Linked DNA regions of Homo sapiens. The protein of the gene in region 3 purifies or fractionates together with the protein of the main gene of each other region. This does not show direct contact. Each region holds a gene or a part of one and is shown on either strand. Other genes may lie near its edges.

Region 1 (3,500 bases), on a different chromosome or scaffold from region 3:
ATTCTGTCTGCATGGAGGCGGGTGACGTGGGGGGCCGGAGGCTGCAAAAATATTCTCCCAAACTTCAGCTTCTGCTTTTGAAAATAGATCCAGGAAAATTCTGGCTGTGGCCTGTGAGCTGAATGACATCACAGCAGCTCTAAATATATATGTGATAAAAGGCTGCCATCAGCTTGGGACGGAGCCCAACCGCGGTTGTTTTTCTCTAGTTTTTGTCTTCCTGGGATTCATATTCAGAAAGTGGGCATGCATTTCCTCCTAACTTGGAGGGACAAAGGGTACCAGTCACCTGCCTTGTGGGAGACGGTCACTAAAGCCAGGGCTTGGAGGTGTGCACATACTCATGCTTCCTGGAAAAGTTCACTGCCCTTCTGCAAGTGGGCAACCCCCGGATCTGAAAATGTTCCTTGCCAAAACTGCCCCCTAACCTGAGAGTGGGGTGATGACAGAGGGCTTTTCTCCCTCAGAAGAGGTCTTCCTGGAGGGCTGCTGAAGGGGTGGGAAGTTCCCTGAGACAGTTGAAATGGCACTCTGTTAACTAGGATGTGTTTTGCACTAAGTATTTTAACTTAGAAATCTTCTAGCCTACCCACCTCATTGCACAGGGAAGACAAAGGCTCCATGGATTGGTAGCCAAGCTGATGATGGAATGCAGAGCCCTGTCCCTGGTTCTTCCTTGCCTGTGACCTAGGCTATGCATTCAGGGAGGCAAGGGACACAGGACAGCTGGCAGGCCAAGACCCTCTCACCTACGGTAGCTTCCCACCAAGCCCCAGACTGGCCTTCTCTTCTCTTCTTTCACCAAGGTTGAGACTGGTAGAGGGGCTCAGGCCCAAGGGAGCTAGGGGTATGTCTGAAAGTGGTTGATTTTTTTCCAGGAGCTTTCTCCTCCCCCAACTTCACACACATGCTGCCTTTCCAAAAGGTGCCAGACGCCAGTCTGCTCTGCCCTACCTCCCAGCCCAGGTACCTGCTCCCCACCTTGCCCAGGCTTTAGGCTCCTGCCTGGGCTCCAAGACCCTTGGGTCTGAGAGCCCTGCTGTCCCTCTGCCCTGGCAGCCCCTGAGGTCCTGGGTCCAGAGAAGTATGACAAGTCATGTGACATGTGGTCCCTGGGTGTCATCATGTACATCCTGTGAGTACCTTCCCCACCCCCTGCCTCCATCTCCTGCCCTTACCCCCACTGTGAGCCCTCAGGACCACTTCTGTCCCCCCACCCCCATGTCCTTGGTGAGGAGCTTGTGTGTGTCACTCCTCATGCAGGCTGCCCTTCCCTTTTGGTCATGGGACACCACTCCTTCAGGTGCCTGAGGGTCTCCCCATGCCAAGGGCTGATGGCATTCCTGGGATGTGCCTGGGAGTCCGGAGGGCTGGTATTATTGCTATGGTGTCTGGTTGTCTGTCTCCCCAGTCAGGGGCTTTTGAGGGGAAATGGGTCCACCCTGGCACTGCTCCCACCCTATGCCAAATGACTTACCCCTTCCCCCAGCCTTTGTGGCTTCCCACCCTTCTACTCCAACACGGGCCAGGCCATCTCCCCGGGGATGAAGAGGAGGATTCGCCTGGGCCAGTACGGCTTCCCCAATCCTGAGTGGTCAGAAGTCTCTGAGGATGGTGAGTGAACCTCTCTGTCCCAGCCTGACTCACCTGGCCCCTGCGGCTTTCATTCTGGGAAACATCACTTTGGTGTCAAACTGACCTGTGTTCAAATCTTGGCTCCCCCTCTTTCCAGCTATGGGACCCTAGGCAAGTCCCCTAACCTTCTTGAGCCTCAGTTTCTACATCTGCCAAACAGGCTCAAAACTTGCCTCCTCAAAACTCCCTCTAACTCCTATTCCTCATTCATATTTTCCCCTTTGAGGACCACAAACAAGGCTGCCCTGTATGAGTTATCTACTGCTGCTTAACCAATTATCCTGAACACTTAGTGTTTCAAAACAAGAAATAGTTGTTAGCTCACTCTTTCTGTGGGTTGGGAATTTGGGAGCACATGCAGCCCCTGCCCCAGCAGAGCTTGTGGTCTGTGGGGAAGGGTGGAGGGGCTGGCTCTGCAATCTCATCTCTCCCCTCTCTTCCCTGGCCCCCCTAGCCAAGCAGCTGATCCGCCTCCTGTTGAAGACAGACCCCACAGAGAGGCTGACCATCACTCAGTTCATGAACCACCCCTGGATCAACGTGAGCCCCTCCTCCTCCCATGGCAGGCAGGGTGTCCAACAGGAGTGGGGCTGCCGGGCAGGAGGGTGGTGGCTCTGCTTTGAGGCCCCAGTGCAGGGCTGGAATGGGCCCATGCACACAGGTAGATACTAGGGCCTCACCTACAACCTGGCTTTGTCACTGCCCTAGTGAGGCTCCTTCCCCACCCTGAGCCTTGGTTTTTCCATCTGAGTCTGGGAGAAGAGGATGGAGTAGGGGGAACCAGTGCTGTCCCAGGTGCCTCCAGTTTCTAATCCACGGGCGTGGGGCTCCTTCCAGCAATCGATGGTAGTGCCACAGACCCCACTCCACACGGCCCGAGTGCTGCAGGAGGACAAAGACCACTGGGACGAAGTCAAGGTGGGTGGGCTCTGCCTCAGTCTCAATACAGGTGCCAGGATTTGGGCAAAAGGGACTTCAGGGGGGTGGCTACCCAGGGTCTGGGGTCTTTGGCCCCTTTCTATACCTGGAGCACAGGGTGTCAGTGACTGTCGCAGTGGTCCAACCATGGCACTCCAAGGATTGGGCCTCACTACGCCATTCAGTGTGGTGCTCCTGGCTCACTTCCTCAATGAAACGGGGCTTTGGTACCAAGCTTGGATGATGACCTCTCTTATAACCAACAACATTTGGGAGGGTGGTCAGCCTGGTTTAGACCCAGCAGAGGCCACGTTTGAACATATGGAGTAGCAGCTCCAGTGGCACAATCTCCAGGCCCCAGTGCGCTGGTTGCCCAGCGAGATGGCATTCTCTGCAGGTCTTGTGGTTCTGTGGTGGAACTGGTTTAGTTCACTATCCCACTTACCCTTGGTGTGGTCCGAGGGAGTAACTCTCCTTTTGTGCCTTAGTGAATAAGCTCAGTGTCTACCACAGAGGACGGTAGTGAGGATCATGTGATGCAAAGGGCTTGGCCCAGTGCTGGGCACACAGTGGGCACAGAGGCAGCACAGGCTGTCACTGACATTAAGGGGCTGCCCAGGCAGGGGGGTGATGGTTCCTAAGGTCAGTACATCCTGACCTCTTAGTGCCCACCATCCTGTCTGTCCCCAGGAGGAGATGACCAGTGCCTTGGCCACTATGCGGGTAGACTACGACCAGGTGAAGATCAAGGACCTGAAGACCTCTAACAACCGGCTCCTCAACAAGAGGAGAAAAAAGCAGGCAGGCAGCTCCTCTGCCTCACAGGGCTGCAACAACCAGTAGCTCATGGGGCCTTGGAGGAGCCTGGCCTCTCAGCCTGCATAACAGACTGAAATGTGCTCAGGCCCTGGCCAGGAGGGCCCAGGGTCATTCTTTTAACAAAAGGA
Region 2 (3,980 bases), on a different chromosome or scaffold from region 3:
TATCACAAGTCTCTGTACGCCTTTGATCCCCAGTTTCCACATCAATAAAATGGCGGTAATCATATCTGACGATTGGGCGGGATTCTATGAAATAATGCGCACAAAGCTCTGGCAAAACCCTATGTAATGGAAGATGTTACTGATGACCAGCACTCAAGTCCTTCCTCCAGCCTCCGCATGGAAAGTTCCCAAGTGTCCCTAGAAGTCTGGAACACTCTAATGTTGACTGGAAAGAATAAGATGGATCTCTTTTTCTGATATGGAAGCGTCCCAAATCCAGTCATACCAGCTGGGAGGCAGTGCCCGCTAGCGGTAAAAAGCATGGATTTTGGATTTGGACAGATCCCCCTGAATTGAAGGCACAAGGGAAACCACTTGTGCCTCTGGCCAAGTTAATTTTTCTCTCCAAGCGTCAGTTTCTCCACCTGTTAAAAAGTAACGGCAAACCTACCTCACTGGAGCTTAATAAGGATTAAGTGAAATAATGCAGGTCAAATATCCGAGCCTTGATATATATAAGCCTCATGTGTATGTGTTCCCATTTATGTAAAATAACAGTGTAAGCATATTCAAAGAAAGCAATTCAGAATGTACTCTTAAACTAAGCAATGGTTATCTTGGTGTGGGGAGTTGGGGAAACCAGGGGCCTGCCTTTTTCTCTATTATATAATGCTGCAAAGTTTGATCTTTAAAAAAGGACATTAAAAAGCCCAATTGTACTTTAAACAACACAAGTTTTAATACTTGGGTAAATAAATGGCATCTAAACAAAGAAAGAAACTGAAGGCAGAGCCAGGCCCAACCCTAGGAGACTGAGGAAGCGATTCTGCTTTGCCTGCCCCCAGCTCAACCCCTGCACTAAAACCCCCCGGCCCCAGCCCCAAGGTCCAGGGGGTTGTATTCCTGGGGGCGACCCGGCGCCCCTCAAGTCTCCCTCCTCTTGCACACACACACACACAAACCAGACTCGAATCCCCGCCTCCCAAGGGAAAGTGTTTTTTAAGGTCTGTTCCAGGGCCTGCCGGGGCCAGGGACCGAGGTGGGACTGAGTGGCCGGAACTCCTCCACCTGGGAGAGTCGGTCCGGGTAGCTGCGGCCAAGCTGAGTCAGCCCGGCGGGCGGCGCACGCGGCGCCGCGTGACCCGCAGCCACGTGACCCGCGCGGGGCCGGGCCGCCGGCGCAGTCGCTGCAGCCGCCGCGGGAGGCGTCCGTGTAAGTGGGTAGCAGGGCTGGCGGGGACCTTCCTCGCGGGCCGGAGCGCGGAGCGCTGCCCCAGCCCTACGGCACTCGGGGTCGGGACCCCGGGGAGCCGCCCTCACACATTTTCCAGGAGGGATCGGAGGGGCGATGGGGTGGTAATGGGGGTGGGGGACACGCTGTACCCCACCGACGACCGCGCGGGCCACCTTCGCCTCTTTCCTTCACACTCCCACTAACCGCAGTGCTGGGGGAACAAAATGTCCTCCTTCTGGAGCGATTACCTTTTCCCTTTTGTGCTTTGGGGGAAACTGAAGACCCAGAGGGGTTCGCAAAGCAAGGTGGGCCAGTAGGAAGACCCCTCCGCTAGTCCAGAGAGAGCACACAGCTCCCCAGGCAGAGCTCATTGCCCCACCTGCTCTAGTGGCCCAGCATGATCCCATGACCTCTCTACTTCTGGAGGAAGAGTCTTGGGGTAGACGGCGGGGAGGGGGTAGGGTATCCCGTTCCGGTAGGGGCAGGGATGAGGGAGGCGGGGCTGAGCCGAGCATCTATCTGGATGGTAACAGCCAACGTAGAAAATACTAAGTTGTTTACATGCATTCTCTCATTTCATATTACCCGTCGTGAAGTCTGTGAAGTAGGTACTATTGTCCCAATTTTTACATAGGAGGAAACGGCTCAGAGAGAACTTAGGTCCTTTGACCGAGGTCCTGCAGGTGGTAAGTGAAGGAGCTGAGATTAGAACCCAGATCTGCCCCCAGTGGCGCCTCCTCGTGGTCTGTGGGTGGTGGAGACGACTGGCCTAGCCTCTTAGCTCCTCTGTGAATAGAAAGGCCTTTTTCCTGGCTCAGACAGCTTGGGAAGGGGATTGTTGCTGGGTAAGAGAAGCTTCTCCCACCACCTCCATCTCTTTCTCTGCCCCTTACCATTGATTCCTTTCTGTCATCCCCTCTCCCCCACTGCAGGACAAGATGAAGCTCATCATCCTGGAGCACTATTCTCAGGCGAGCGAGTGGGCGGCTAAATACATCAGGAACCGCATCATCCAGTTTAACCCAGGGCCAGAGAAGTACTTCACCCTGGGGCTCCCCACTGGTGCGTTCTTGGATGGAGAGGGTGCCGTGGATAAGGGTGGAGAGAGTAGGCAACAGGGGCCAGGTACACCGGCTCACTCAGCCAAGGGACTTCACGGGGGCTCTGGGGTACTGGTGCTGAGAGAGCACCTTCCTGCCCCTTCCACATACAAAGGACCCAGCTTCCCTTATGGGTTGGTTTAGTCGCTGCCTGTCCCTGCAGAATCCTGGAGCAGAAGGGATCTTGGTTGGCAGGAAGAATTTGATTTTTAGGCTACATCCTAAGTCAGCCCTGTCCACCAGGGTTTCTTAACAGAATTAAGTCCTGATACCCTAAGGCATTCATTTTATGTAATGAATTAATTTCTCTTCTCTGCATCTAGAGGGGTACCAGCTAAGTACCATCCTTGGGAGAATTGAAAAGATAGTCACTTAGGTAATTTTCTGTAAGGCTTAATTAAACACAGGACCTAAATAAAAAACAGTTCTAATTTCTTTTGGAAAAAATCAAAATGTTGCTTTTTCAGAAAGATATTTTGACCCCAGCTCCTCAAGACAAATGTCCTGATTATTTCTTTCAGAGATGGATGGGTTTGCCCTAGTGGCCCTACCTGACCCATCCATTAGCGTGTCTATGTGTGTGTGTGTGTGTTGGAGGGGTCTTCAAACTTGTTCTTTTTCCTTTTTTTTTTTTTTTTTGGTCTTCCTTGCAGTCCAGACTTTTTCTGTAAATGGCCAGTAGTAAATATGTTAGACTTCACTAGCCATATAGTCTCTGTTGCAACAACTTAACCCTTCTGTTGTTTGAAAGCAGCTATAATTAGCCTGGCATGGTGGCGCTCACCTGTAGTCCCAGCTTCTTGGGAGGCTGAGGTAGGTGGATTGCTTGAGCCAGTAGATTGAGGCTGCAGTGAGCCATGATTGTGTCACTGTACTCCAGTCTGGGTGACAGTGAGACCCTGTCTCAAAAAAAGAAAAGACAATATATAAGTGAATGAGTATGGTTGTATGCCAATAAAACTGTATGGACACTGAAGTTTGAACTTATATAATTTTCACATGTCACAAAATATTATTCTTCTTTAATTAAAAAAAAAACTATTTAAAAATGTAAAAACCAGGCCAGGCATGGTGGCTCATATCTGTAATTTCAGCACTTTGGGAGGCTGAGGTAGGCAGATTGCTGGAGCCCAGGAGTTTGAGATTAGCCTGGGCAACATGGCAAAACCCCATCTCTACAAAAAATAGAAAAATTAGCTAGGCATGGTGGCACATGCCTGTAGTCCCAGCTACTGAGGAGGCTACGGTGTGAGGTGTGAGTATTGCTTGGGCCAGGAGGTCGAGGCAGTGAACCATGATTGTGCAATTGCACTCCAGCCTAGGTGACAGAGCAAGATTCTGTCTCAAAAAAAAAAAAAAAAAGAAAGAAAAGAAAACCATTCTTAACTCATAAGCTGTATAAAAACAGGCCACAGGGCCGGGTGTGGTGGCTCACGCCTGTAATCCCAGCACTTTGGGAGGCTGAGGTGGGTCGATCATTTGAAGTCAGGAATTTGAGACCAGCCTGGCCAACATGGTGAAACCCTGCCTCTACTAAAAATATAAAAATTAGCTGGGCATGGTGGCGGGCACCTATAATCCCAGCTACTCAGGAGGCTGAGGCAGGAGAATCAATTGAACCCAGCAGATAGAGGTTACAGTGAGCT
Region 3 (3,500 bases):
CTGGGATTACAGGCATGCACCACCACACCCAGCTAATTTTGTATTTTTAGTAGAGATGGGGGTTTCACCACGTTGGTCAGGCTGGTCTCAAACCCCTGACCTCAGGTGATCTGTCCACCTTGGCCTCCCAAAGTGCTGGGATTACCAGCATGAGCCACCACGCCAGCCTTGGTTATAGTTTTAAATGTATTTTTCCTTTATCAACATTGGGATGCCTGTGGTCTAAAGAGTCAGGGGTTCTCAAAGCCTTTGTGAAATACAGTGGCCCTCCAGCCCACCTCTCCCTATTTCCTGCTCAATTCTTTTAGCCGATCTTTTGGTTATGTACTCCCCATATCTGTAAATATTCTGCTTATCATATTGTTCCTTGTTGATTTTCAAGTTGGGGTCTTTCAGGTGGAAATGAAGCATTCGTACCTTCACAACCACTTCCCGTCCAGGCAGTCTCCCCATCTGTATTGCAGTTGTAGTTAGGTCAGTATCTGTACACTGACATTATTATGACCATGGAAATAGACGTGGACAGCTGAACCATCACGGATAGAATGAGTACTCTAACTTTCTCGCCCAGCTTTTGTTTTCTCTGGAGTTAATATTTGTCTTAATATCTGTTTGCTTGACTTTTTTATGTCAATGATACTAATGATAATGTATCTCCAAGCCCTTTCCCTGTCCAGTGAATCTCCTTTCAACACACATCAACTAGTCTATCAAGTTCATCTTCTTGAGGCGATCTCTCCCAAAACCTTCTGCCTGCTTCCCTCTGAAGTGGGGGCTCTTGCTTCCTACACTGCCCATCTTGGCGTCTTTCTTCACTGTCGACCCAAGGGGTTCTTTCACCCCTGTCGATTGGGTGCCCCGTTTCCTGCTCCTGCATCTTTATTCCTCTTTGCTTTACTCTTTGGGCAGAGCAAATCTTCCAATTGTTTCTGAAAAAAATATTGCAAAGGAAATATTTCTAGGGGGATCTTGCCCATCTGAAAGCGTATTTATTTTACCTAAAACATGATTGATAGCCAGGCTGGGTGTAGGGTTCTAGCATGGAAGTGATTTCCCCTGGAAATGCTGAAGCCACTGCTCTATTGGCACCTAGCTTCTGGGCTTGCTGCAGAGAAGTCAGTTGCCATTCCTTTGTTTTTTCTTTTTGGAAGTTAGCAGGATCTTCTTTGTTCCCGTGTTCTGAAATTTCATGGGATGCAGGTTCAGTATGCCTTTCTTTTTTTTTTTTTTTTTTTTTTTGCCACCCCACCCCCGCCCCCCGAGATGGAATCTCACTCTTTCACCCAGGCTGGAGTGTGGTGGCACAATCTCGACTCACCGCAACCTCCGCCTCCTGGGTTCAAGCAGTTCTCCTGTCTTAGCCTCCCAAGTAGCTGGGATTACAGGCATCCGCCACCATACCAGGCTAATTTTTGTATTTTTAGTAGAGACGGGGTTTCACTATATTAGCCAGGCTGATCTCAAACTCCTGACCTCATGATCTGCCCACCTCGGCCTCCGAAAGTGCTGGGATTACAGGCGTGAGCCACCACACTCAGCCTGCCTTTTAGACTAGAAACTCATGGCCGTTAATTCTCAGAAATCATGATTTCTTTGATCTCTTCTGTTTTCTCTCTTCACAGACTTTTTTTTTTAATTCAGAGACTGTTTCTCTGATTTTCTAACCCTCCTATTGTTTTCCATTTCTGCTATCATTTTTAACTTCCAGGAGCATGTATGCTCCCTGAAGTTTCCTCACAGCACTCTGCCCTGACTCATAGGTACAGTACCACCCTTTTCTCTCTGAGATTTTTTTTTTTAATCTTATTTTACTGTATTAAATCTTACTAATATTCTGTAAGGGACAAACCAGACGAGTAGGCTACAGTGAAGAAATCTTATTTTGGAGAGTTAAGAAACCACTATGATACTTCCAGGTATTATCTTCAGTGATGCTTCTTATCTTTATTCAGGGACTCCAGGTAATATTCAGCTCCTACAGCTACCACAAATGCAGCAAATCCCCATTTGAATCCTTTAAACAATACATCAAAAAAGGAAACACTCTTTGCAAAGCCACCCATGTATCTTCAAGCTTCATTGTGGCCCCACGGATCCCTTAGCCCTTTTTCAGCCAGCTTCTTCTGGATAGTTTCTAATGGTGTCCCTTCTGTCTTCCGTTGTCTGTAATCTAGAAGTTCCATTTTACGATGTCCATGCTCATGTCCATGTCCATGGGCCATGTCTGACAGCAATCTGACCTCTCAGGACACTCAACTCTCTCTCTCTGAGATCTTAATGGTAGTTTTCCATATGTCCTCTACATCCTTTATAACCTCAGTTTCTTCCATCTTAATTTGTTTTCTACCTGCCTTTCATATTAGAGGCAATTCTCAACTGTTTGGTGTTTCTTGGCTATTTGCTGGTGTTTTGGGGGGTGCACTGAAAGCTGCTGGATGCACTCTTCATTGGGGAAGAGCTTATCAACATAGGTTCCACTTCCTGGAGAGTGACCAGGCTGCTCCCCTTTTGTTGGGGAATCTTTCGTGTCAAGGTCTTTAGATCTTTTCTTTAAAGTTAAGTGAGATTCCCCAGAGAAAGCTCCCCCAGTCCACTGTTCAGAGGGGGTGAGTCCCGCTGCCAGAGTTCTACGGCTGAGTGGGAGAGAAGGGCTGGGCTGTGGGATCCTTCCCCGAAGCTCCCTATTCTCTGTGTGCTGCCAGTGCCCCAACTGTGCAGACTGCCCCCAGTCTAGGCACCTGTAACTCTGTCCTCTCTTGACATGAAACCTTGGAATGGAGGGGAAACTGTGACACTCCCTTGGCCGAGGGGAGAGGGATTCTCAATAACTGCTTCTTGAAGAGACTTCAACCAGCGCTCCTGTTTTCATAACCCGCTTTCCTGCCCCCACTCCTGTAAGTGCGCAAGGTCACTAAGGCCCGAACCTTTGGGTGATTCCGTAACAGTGTACACTCGGTCACCTTCCAGTATTTCCATGATGTCTTAGCATTTGTTTTTCTCTCATGCTGTTAGGCACTGATCATTCATCAGCTTTCTGGCTTCTGAAACCTTGTTGCTGTCATCCTCTTCTTGTTTCCTTTGTCCTTGTGGGATTATGCTTTAAAAAAAAAAAAAAAAAAGAAGATCTCTGCTTTTGTTGTAGTAGATTTCAGAAATATCATCATCAATACGCATCTTTAACTAGAACATAAGCATTTCATTTCCTTCTGGGGTGACTCCACTCCGGCTTCTCCATGACTTCCATCACTTTTTTTTTTTTTTTTTTTTTGAGGCTGAGTCTCACTCTGTCGCCCAGGCTGGAGTGCACTGGCACAGTCTTGGCTCACTACAACCTCTGCCTCCTGAGTTCGAGCGATTCTCCTGCCCTGGCCTCGTAAGTAGCTGGGACTGCAGGCGCCCGCCACCACACCCGGCTAATTTTTGTATTTTTAGTAGAGAGGGGGTCTTGCCATGTTGGCCAGGCTAATCTTGAACTCCTGATCTCAGGTGATCCGCCCGCC
Region 4 (3,500 bases), on a different chromosome or scaffold from region 3:
CCTGGTGGTCCCTGGCCCAGGTGGCTGCTGGGGGCCGTCCCTGAGATGGCCTCTCCAGCTCCCCCATATCTCAAAAGCAGCTTTGTGGGAGTGCCAATTCTCCAGCAGAGTCTCTGAGGGGGGTTTTGGAGAAGACCTGGACCAGGCAGATGGTGAATCTCTCTTCCAGGGAGTGAGGCCGAGCAGGGGCCGTGCGACATGGCCCACCTTGTTTTATGCCCCCCCTTTTTTTTTTTGAGAAAGGGTCTGGCTCAGTTGCCAAGGTTGCAATGTAGTGGCACAATCATGGCTCACTGCAGCCTCCACCTCCCAGGCTCAGTCCCCGAGTAGCTGGAATTACAGACGCACACCACCATGTCTGGCTAATTTTTGTATTTTTAGTAGAGACGAGGTTTTGCCATGTTGCCCAGGCTGGTCTCTAACCCTTGGGCTCAAGGGATCCTCCTGCCTCAGCCTCCCAAAGTGCTGGGGTTACAGGCATGAGCCACCTCACCTCGCCCTGCCTGGTTTTTATTAGATGGAAGAGAAGCTGGGCCAGGTGTGGTGGCTCACGCCTGTAATCCCAGCACTTTGGGAGGCCGAGGCGGGCAGATCACTTGAGGTCAGGAGTTTGAGGCCAACATGATGAAACCCCATCTCTACTAAAAATACAAAAATATTAGTCGGGCATGGTGGCGGGCGCCTGTAGTCCCAGCTACTTGGGAGGCTGAGGCAGGAGAATCTCTTGAACCCGGGAGGCGGAGGCTTCAGTGAGCCGAGATTGAGCCACTGCACTCCAGCCTGGGTGACAGAGCGAGACTCCATCTCAAAAAAAAAAAAAAAAAAAAAAGTTTCAGGAGGGATGGTCTCTGCCACCTTCTTCTCCGCCACCGTCTGAGGCCCCTGCTGTGGGATAGGGAGGGGCATCCAAGCAAGAGGGCAGCCCTGGGCTCTTCCTCCTGACAGGGCAGCACATCAGAGCCACATGGGGTGCCTTTCAAAATGAAACCGAGGTGCCTGGGCTGCGGCACCACATCTGCCTCGGTGGGTGTGGGTGGGGCCTGTAACCTACTCCGTCCTGGGGCCAGGTGTCAGGGACCTTCCCAGCATGTGCAGGGGAAGACAGTCCACACAAAGTGGGTGTGTCTGCCGGAGGCTACACACGGGCTGTGGTCTGTGCCTGGGCAGGCGAGCAGCCGCTCACTGGGATGTTTCTGTTGCACGTACCCATGTCGGGCTGCTGGCAGGGAGCTGAGAGGTTACTGCAGGCGGGGCCCCTGCTGGAACTGGGGACTGTGACGAGGGTTTTTTAGGAAGGGTTTCAGGAGGGGAGGTCTCGGTAACCCTGAGTACTTTCTTGGGGCTGTGATGAGCAGGAGAAGAGAGGTGGGAGGTGCTCAGGACGATGACCTTAAGCCCCTGGGGAGTTGCAGCGTCGCTCAGGACAGCAGGTGCACCTGCAGCTGCCCCTCTTCCCTCCAGGAGGCACAGGAGTTGGAGGTGATTGGTGTCACAGCCCCCCAGAGCCTGCCCTTGAACCCGAGCCTGGGGCAGCACACAGTGTGGAGGTCATGTGGCAAACACCAGTGGGTGGGTAGAGCTTGCCACAGGGATGGGCCCATCTCTCTCCCTCCTTATCCCAGATCACCGCAGACCTGCTGTCCAACGGCATCGACGTGTACCCCCAGAAGGAATTTGATGAGGACTCGGAGGACCGGCTGGTGAACGAGAAGTTCCGGGTGAGTGGATCCACTAGGATGTTGTTCCCAGGGGACCCCCAGTTCCTGCTGAAGGGTGGGTTGGGGGTTTGGAGGACCTTAAGCCATGAAATTATATTCTTGGGGCCAGAGGGCACTGAGCCCAGGTGTCTGTACCCAGTGCTGTCAGGCTGAGGCTCTCGTTTTTGGGGGACCCCAGGCTCAGGGCAGCTCCTCCCGGGGGCCCAGGGGAGGGAATTGCCTTCCCGCACATGTGTAACCAATACCGTCTGCCCGTTCCCCAGGAGATGATCCCATTTGCTGTGGTGGGCAGTGACCACGAGTACCAGGTCAACGGCAAGAGGATCCTTGGGAGGAAGACCAAGTGGGGTACCATCGAAGGTACTCGCCGCAGGCGCCGGGGCTCCAGACAGATGGGAAGACAGTCTCTTCTGCTGACCCAGAGCCTGTGGGCCACGCCTGAGCCAGGGACTCGTGGAACCTCATCCACTGCCTTGCCCCACCCAGAGGGAGGGGTCTCCTTGTCCCCATTCAACCCTTGGGAAAGTGAGAGGGCAAGTGGCCTGTGCAGATGCCTCCACCCCAGACCTCCCCCCGGGCAGGGAAAGATTCAGGGAGACAGGAGCTGGGATGGGGGCCGCCAAGTTCTGGATCCTGGTGCAGGCTCTTTCATAGGCACCTGTGTGGCCCTGGACAAATCGCCCAACCTCTCTGGGCCTAGAAAAGGGGTGGGCTGTAGCTCTGTGAGCCAGATGGACCCTCGGCCCCTTACCCTGCTGAAGTTCCTGGGACCCTCACACCTTAGTCTCTTGAGTGGCTGTTGTAACCAATTAGCACAAACGAGGGGACTTAAAACAACACAAACGTATTTTCACAGTTCCAGAGGCCAGAGGTCCGAAATCAGGGGCTGTTTCCTTCTGAGGCCCTGAGGACCAGCCTCATCCATGCCTTCCTCCTTCTGGTGGCGCCTGGCATTCCTAGTTGTATTGTAAAGGCATCACATGCTCTAATCTCTGCCCCATTGTCACAGGGCCTTCTTCCCTGTGTCTCTGTCCCGTCCCTCCTCTTCCTTTTTTTTTTTTTTTTTTTTTGTTTGAGACGGAGTCTCGTTCTGTCACCCAGGCTGGAGTGCAGTGTTGCAATCTCAGCTCACTGCAACCTCTGCCTCCTGGGTTCAAGTAATTCTCCTGCCTCAGCCTCCCGAGTATCTGGGATTACAGTCACGTACCACCCACCTGACTTAATTTTTGTATTTTTAGTAGAGACAGGATTTCGCCATGTTGGCCAGGCTGGTCTTAAACTCCTGACCTCAGGTGATCTGCCCACCTTGCTTGGCCTCCCAAAGTGCTGGGATTACAGGAATGAGCCACCGAGCCTGCCCTCTTTCCTTCTTGTCTTTGGACAAGGATGCCTGTCTTTGGACTTAGGGCCTACCCTAAGTGGATGATCCCATTTGGAGATCCTTAATGAATCTATAAAGAAAGACGTTTTCCAAGTAAGGTCACAATCATGGGTTCCAAGGCCTGGACCTTGACCATGTCTTTGAATGGATGGGAGCCCCTGGGGGGCCACAGTTCAACCCACTCCTGGCGGTGACACCCCGGGAGGGATGGGCCCGAACGTTTCCTTCCCCTTCCTCTCTCTGTCCCTTCATTTCTCATTAGAATGGAAGAGGGGAAGGTGCAGAGGGAAATGCAGCAGGAAAAGCCACTTTGTTCTGGGAGAGCACTTGGCTGAAAGGCCCAGTAGAGCAGGAAGCACAAGTCTCTTAATCTTCCAGGGCCTCAGTTTTCATCATCCACA

The links. The genes of interacting proteins can lie anywhere in the genome.
Region 1: the proteins of WARS1 (region 3) and MAPKAPK3 fractionate together in Homo sapiens (co-fractionation; one large-scale study listed by BioGRID). This does not show direct contact.
Region 2: the proteins of WARS1 (region 3) and GNPDA1 fractionate together in Homo sapiens (co-fractionation; one large-scale study listed by BioGRID). This does not show direct contact.
Region 4: the proteins of WARS1 (region 3) and SEPTIN9 fractionate together in Homo sapiens (co-fractionation; one large-scale study listed by BioGRID). This does not show direct contact.

Annotation. Positions count from the first base shown.
Region 1 is NC_000003.12:50,644,651-50,648,150, forward strand, and holds part of MAPKAPK3 (MAP kinase-activated protein kinase 3), read left to right. Parts: intron 1-1,059; coding exon 1,060-1,135; intron 1,136-1,489; coding exon 1,490-1,614; intron 1,615-2,089; coding exon 2,090-2,175; intron 2,176-2,472; coding exon 2,473-2,553; intron 2,554-3,243; coding exon 3,244-3,396; 3' UTR 3,397-3,500. UniProt on the Homo sapiens protein: Stress-activated serine/threonine-protein kinase involved in cytokines production, endocytosis, cell migration, chromatin remodeling and transcriptional regulation.
Region 2 is NC_000005.10:142,010,228-142,014,207, reverse strand, and holds the start of GNPDA1 (glucosamine-6-phosphate deaminase 1), read left to right. Parts: upstream 1-1,180; 5' UTR 1,181-1,213; exon of another isoform or gene 1,214-1,458; coding exon of another isoform or gene 1,459-1,539; intron 1,540-1,868; exon of another isoform or gene 1,869-1,920; intron 1,921-2,166; coding exon of another isoform or gene 2,167-2,172; coding exon 2,173-2,296; intron 2,297-3,980. UniProt on the Homo sapiens protein: Catalyzes the reversible conversion of alpha-D-glucosamine 6-phosphate (GlcN-6P) into beta-D-fructose 6-phosphate (Fru-6P) and ammonium ion, a regulatory reaction step in de novo uridine diphosphate-N-acetyl-alpha-D-glucosamine (UDP-GlcNAc) biosynthesis via hexosamine pathway.
Region 3 is NC_000014.9:100,365,348-100,368,847, reverse strand, and holds part of WARS1 (tryptophan--tRNA ligase, cytoplasmic), read left to right. Parts: intron 1-1,804; exon of another isoform or gene 1,805-2,260; intron 2,261-3,500. UniProt on the Homo sapiens protein: Catalyzes the attachment of tryptophan to tRNA(Trp) in a two-step reaction: tryptophan is first activated by ATP to form Trp-AMP and then transferred to the acceptor end of the tRNA(Trp).
Region 4 is NC_000017.11:77,490,999-77,494,498, forward strand, and holds part of SEPTIN9 (septin-9), read left to right. Parts: intron 1-1,622; coding exon 1,623-1,718; intron 1,719-1,981; coding exon 1,982-2,078; intron 2,079-3,500.